Linked DNA regions of Homo sapiens. The protein of the gene in region 2 interacts with the protein of the main gene of each other region in a biochemical or structural test. Each region holds a gene or a part of one and is shown on either strand. Other genes may lie near its edges.

What was found. The genes of interacting proteins can lie anywhere in the genome.
Region 1: the proteins of VDR (region 2) and CREBBP form a complex in vitro, tested with the Homo sapiens proteins (2 studies listed by BioGRID).

What each region holds. Positions count from the first base shown.
Region 1 is NC_000016.10:3,727,625-3,730,857, forward strand, and holds part of CREBBP (CREB-binding protein), read right to left. Parts: intron 2,251-3,233; coding exon 94-2,250; 3' UTR 1-93. UniProt on the Homo sapiens protein: Acetylates histones, giving a specific tag for transcriptional activation. Mediates acetylation of histone H3 at 'Lys-18' and 'Lys-27' (H3K18ac and H3K27ac, respectively).
Region 2 is NC_000012.12:47,843,451-47,846,082, forward strand, and holds part of VDR (vitamin D3 receptor), read right to left. Parts: intron 1,556-2,632; coding exon 1,296-1,555; coding exon of another isoform or gene 1,095-1,295; 3' UTR 1-1,094.

The DNA.
Region 1 (3,233 bases), on a different chromosome or scaffold from region 2:
GTTCCATCTAGGAATAAAAAGAACCTAGATGCCTGGATTTTCAGTACAAAAGGTCCAAGAACATGAAAGGGAAAAGGTGATGCTCTCACAATGCTACAAGCCCTCCACAAACTTCTCTAGCGTGTCCCCCGTGGTGTCCCCGACCAGGGACAGTTCGCTGGACAGCGCACTCCTGCTGGGGGTGTTCAGCTGGGGGAGCATTGCACTCTGTTCGGGGTTCCCCAAGTGTCCCTGATCTATGGAGCTGGCCATGGTGACTGCGAGTCCGGGGTGGGGGGAACCAGTCTGGGGTGAGACGTGGTGTGGCGAAGGCTGGGGCTGTATCCGTGGTGACGGGCTGGAATGTGGAGGCTGGGACTGGGGCCGTGGAGACTGGACAGGGGCTGGAGACCGCACCTGGTTACTAAGGGACGTGGCGATCTGCTGGCCAGGGAGATGCGAGGCCTGTGGCTGTCCTGAGAGCATGTGTTGCTGGGGGCTCATGGGGTTCGGCTGGCCTGGGGACCCAATCTGCTGCTTCATCTGCTGTTGCTGCAGAATCCGCTGCTGCAGGGCTTGCTGGATGTTGGGGGTGCTGTCTGCCCCCAGCCCCGGCTGCCCCATCTGGCCAAGCTGTCCCATCTGAGCCGCCATCTGGCCCATGGAGCTGCCCTGGAGGGGGAGATGCTGCTGCATGCGCTGCTGCTGCTGCATGGCCGGTGGGTAGCCTCCGGGTCCTTGAGGCTGCTGGAACTGGCCGTGCCCCGCCATGCCCCCAGCCATGCCGGCACTCCCTTGCTGCTGCTGCTGTTGCTGCTGTTGTTGCTGCTGCTGTTGCTGCTGCTGCTGCAGCAGCTGCCTCCGTAACATTTCTCGGTACTGTGGATTCATACTCGCCATGTTGGGGTTGTGTCCTGGGTTCATGATGTTCAAGGCCTGGCCCTGGGGGTTCAGGCCTCCCATCGCCTGCTGCTGTGGAGGCACACCGGGCCGCGGCACGCCAGCCTGCATGGCATTCAGGTTCTGCAGGCTGGGCTGCTGGTGCATGCCAGGCTGGGGTTGCATGCCGGGCTGGGACTGGAGGCCAGGCTGGGGCTGCATGCCGGGCTGATTGGCCACGTACTTGGCTGTGCGCTGTTTGATGAAAGCTGCCATTAGCTGCGGGTTTGATTTGAGAATGTTCAGCACCTGCTGTTGCTGCTGAGGGGAGCTGGGCGACTTCAGGGTCCGCAGCAGGTCTTGCAGAGCGCTGGGTGAGATGCTCCTGGGTGGCTGCACGCTGGGCATCCGGGGCCCAGCCACGGCCGCCTGGGCCTGCATGGATATCACAGGCCTGGGCAAGCCTGGCATGGGCTGCTGCTGGGGAAGGGGCGCCTGCTGCCACTGCCCGGGAGGCATGCTGGGCATGACGGGCCCGCTCACCTGGTTGGGTCGGGGCACATTCAGGCTCACGGGGGCCATCTGGCTCCCCGGGGTCCCCATGCCCGTGCGTCCTGGGGGCATGCTGTTGTTGATGTTCACCCGGTACAGGTGCTGCTGCTGCTGGGCCTCACGCTCGATCTGCCGAGCCGCTTCCACCGCTGCAGGAGGGGGCTGGGCCGGGGGTGGGGGGGCCGGCACCTGGCTGGTAGGCTTCCCTGTGGACACCGTGGTGGGGGGCTGAGTCCGGGCCACGCTGGGGAAGCCAGCTGGTGACATGCTCACGGGTGAGGGTTGGGGCTGGGCAGGGGGCTGCGGCGTCTGGGGTGTGCTGGGCTGCTGTGTGGGGGTCCCGGGCGGTGCTGAGGTAGGAGAAGGCAGACTCTGCTGAGGCACGTTGCGGGTGTTCATGGTGGCCATCCGCCGGCGCATGAGCTGGGCCTGCTGCAGGCGGTGCTGGATCTGCTGCTGGCGGAGCTTGTGTTTGATGTTGAGGCAGAAGGGCACGGGGCATTTGTTTTCTTGGCAGTGCTTGGCGTGGTAGCAGCAGAGGGCGATGAGCTGCTTGCACACCGGGCAGCCCCCGTTGGTCTTGCGTTTGCAGCCCTTGGTGTGCTGCACCACCCGCTTCATCTTCTGGCAGGATGGCAGCGAGCAGTTGGCGTTGCGGCACTGGCACGCGTGCACCAGCGACTGGATGCAGCGCTGGATGCTCAGCCGGCGTGACTCCTGGGGGCTCTTTGACTGTGGCTCGCCCTGGCTGCTGCCCTCGTCATCCAGGCCCAGCCCCCACTTCACCATCTTATGGGCATGGCTCTTCGTGTTATAGCAGTTGATGCAGAGGTCGTAGTCCTGCAAGCAAGGAAAGGGGACAGGCCGGTGTCAGCATGGGACCCAGTACCACCAGGCATCCTGGCTGCTTCCCTCCACCGCTAAGTCTGGGTCTGTGCCAGGAGACCCAGGCAGGATAGGAGACCCAGACAGGATGCGAGCACGGACAGGTGGGAGACCCGGACAGGGCGGGAGCACGGACAAGATGGGATCATGGACGGGATGGGATCATGGACAACATGGGATCATGGACAGGACGGGGGCATGGACTGCCTATGTGTTGCTCCCAAGGACCTTCACTCCTGGCAACAGCCCTGAAGGCTCAAAGATAACCTGACCCATGCCCCAAGAACCCCTGGCCTGTAAGCTCACGGACAGTAGACACCAGCCCCCTTCCTTCCGACTTCCTCTGACCTGGGAGTCACATCAGCCCTTGCCACAGCCTGTCCAACTCCTGTACTCAAACTATGAAGCCAGACAGTGAAAGGCTGAGGGAGGCCGGTCCCTCCCAAAGCGCCGACAGCTGCCGTGAAGTGCCTCTGGGAAGGCCTGAGCTATCCGCAGTGCACCAGTGGGACTTCCCCAACGCGCAAGCCCAAGTTACTGAAAACTGCTCGCACCTGGCAACCTGATGGAGCCCTAGGACCAGGTACCATGACTGTGTTCACAAAAAGATATGAAAACTGCCGCATTCAGAAACTAGAAAGAGGACAAAGGAGACTGGAGAAAGGTGGAAAGCGGAAGAAGTGTGTGAAGGTGGGGAGGGAAGAAAGGCCCTCGCTCTGCTGAGGACCCGCTCTGCCCCGCTACAGACACCACAGCAAGTGAGGAGGCTCCGGGTTGGCAGGTGATGGTGACTGTCCTGGGAGGGGGATGGTGGGATCTGTCACCTGCCTGCCCTGCACAGCCTGACTCGGCCCATGCAAGGGACACCCACGTCATTTCACAGGGGGGTCAAAATTCCTAGAGGGGAGTGAGGGAGCATGACCGGGGGGTCCTTCAGG
Region 2 (2,632 bases):
TCACAAAGACCCCACCTTGGAGTAAACGGACAGACGCTTCCCACCAGCTGGGCTGGGCTGGCTGCAGAGAGCATGCACTTGAAGTTGTATCACTCCGCCCCTGCCTCACAGGCACCTTTTGACTTTTGGGTGGTGGAGTGAGAATAAGAAGGCACCTTACCCTACATCACGGAACCCCCAAACACTCTCTCTGACTAGCCACCCGAGACTGCCCCGCTCTCCCTTCCCACACTCTGGGGTGCGGCAGCGCTAGCTCTTAGCCCTGTGGGTGAACAGCGGCCTTGCAACCACATTGAGGCGGCAGGGAGATCATGACTCAGCCGCTGGGGTCTGAAAATTCTTCTCCTCCATCCCACCCTGCCAGATGGAGAAGATGCGGCTCACTGCTTCTCCAGACCCTCTCCCCTGGGGAGGGGGTGGGGGAGCAGGCTCTCGGCTACTCTCGGTGATCCGAGGAGGACAGGGAGGGCTGGCTCTCCTGGGCAGGAGGTAAGGCACTGGCAGGGGGAGGACGAGGTCGGCAGGTGCTTTTCTGCAAACTGGGGACAATTCAGTCCTGCTACATGGATCCGTGGAAGGAGGGCTTCCACCTCAACCAACCCCTTAGACCCAGGGCGAGGAACTGTGAGCTTGGTGACAGGGACAGCTGTCATATTCTTCTGTGAGGCTGTTTTTGTCTGTTTTTCCTCCTTGGGTCTCTCAGCAGGTGGGTTCGTGCCTGGTGCTCCAGTGATGGGAAGAAAACCCACCTCACCACAGCTACTGCCCGTGAGAATATAACCAGGGCAATGGGATGTTGGTGGGCACTGAAGGGGGTGGGGTGGGAGCTGTGGGCCGATTATTTATCGTGAGTAGGCAGGAGAGGGAGACCCCACTAGGCGCTGGACAAGCGGGGCCTGCAGTGGGGGGAGGTGCAGGTGTCTCTGTCCCTGAGGAATGGATGCATTTCTCCTGTCTGTTCCCTCAACATCAGTCAGCAGCCACTTAGGCAGCGGTGGAGGCATCTCTGGGCAAGGCCCTGCCTCCAGCCTCTGCCCTCTGCCCCCACTTGGGTTTCTTTGTCAAACAAACAGCAACTCCTCATGGCTGAGGTCTCAAGGGACCGGGGAAAAGCCCGCAGGAAAGGGGTTAGGTTGGACAGGAGAGAGAATGGGCTGGGTGGATAGGGGAGGTGGCAGAGGAGGGGCTGAACCCCAGACGGGGTGAGGAGGGCTGCTGAGTAGCCGCCAGCCCCGGGCCTGGCACGTGGCCCTGGAGGAGCAGCCCCACCCAGGCACCGCCACAGGCTGTCCTAGTCAGGAGATCTCATTGCCAAACACTTCGAGCACAAGGGGCGTTAGCTTCATGCTGCACTCAGGCTGGAAGGAGAGGCAGCGGTACTGCTTGGAGTGCTCCTCATTGAGGCTGCGCAGGTCGGCTAGCTTCTGGATCATCTTGGCATAGAGCAGGTGGCTGCCCGGGGGCGGGTGGCGGCAGCGGATGTACGTCTGCAGTGTGTTGGACAGGCGGTCCTGGATGGCCTCAATCAGCGCGGCGTCCTGCACCCCAGGACGATCTGTGGGCACGGGGATAGAGAAGAAGGCACAGGAGCTCTCAGCTGGGCCCCTCACTGCTCAATCCCACCACCCCCCACCCACACAGACACTCAACGGCAGCACCCCCTAGGCCACCCCTCTATGACTGCTGACCGGTGATACCACTGCCTGGCCCCAAAGCCCTCCAGTGACTTCTCCGTGCATTTAGGATCCAGACCTAGGTCCTTCCATGGGCGCACCTGGCCCTGTCCCTGCCTGGCCTTGCTCCCTGTCCATGCTCTGTCCATCCCTCAGCGTCCCGATGCGCCATGCTCTCTGGCCACCAGCCTTCACATCTGTGCTCCCTCTGCTTGGAACTCTGCTCTGCTATCTTTGCCAGACTCTTACTGATCCTTTGGATAACAGCTTAAAAGGTCTTCCTCCAAAAGGCCATTCCTGGCAACACTCTACCTCTGTAGCCCAGACCACGTCAGCTTCCCTCCTTCTATTCTACCCTTCTGTAGCATCACTTACTTTATTTTTAAAACTCTTGCCTTGTTAGGAATTAATAATTAAATAACATTTGTTTAATGTTTCCTCCTAAGCTTCATGGGAGAGGAGCCTGTGTCCCATTTGCTGCTGAACCCCAGTACCTAGCATAGTGCCTGGTACCTAATAGGTGCTCAATAAATTGTTGCTAAGTGGATGAATGAATGAGAGAAGGCTGGCTGGGCAGGGGTAGAGGAGCCCATCTCCATTCCTTGAGCCTCCAGTCCAGGAAAGCATCCCTGGGCACAGGCCACTAGCACAGGCTGAGGCAGGGCCGCCCCTCTTTGGACCTCATCACCGACATCATGTCCCCAAGGTCACAATAACTTCCTCTTCGGCCTTTTCTCCCTCTTCTCACCTCTAACCAGCGGAAGAGGTCAAGGGTCACTGCACATTGCCTCCAAAATCAATCAGGTAAACTATATAGGCAGAACCATCTCTCAGGCTCCAAAGTTTTGTACCCTGCCCGCAAGAAACCTCAAATAACAGGAATGTTGAGCCCAGTTCACGCAAGAGCAGAGCCTGAGTATTGGGAATGCGCAGGCCTGTCTGTGGCCCCAGGAACCCTG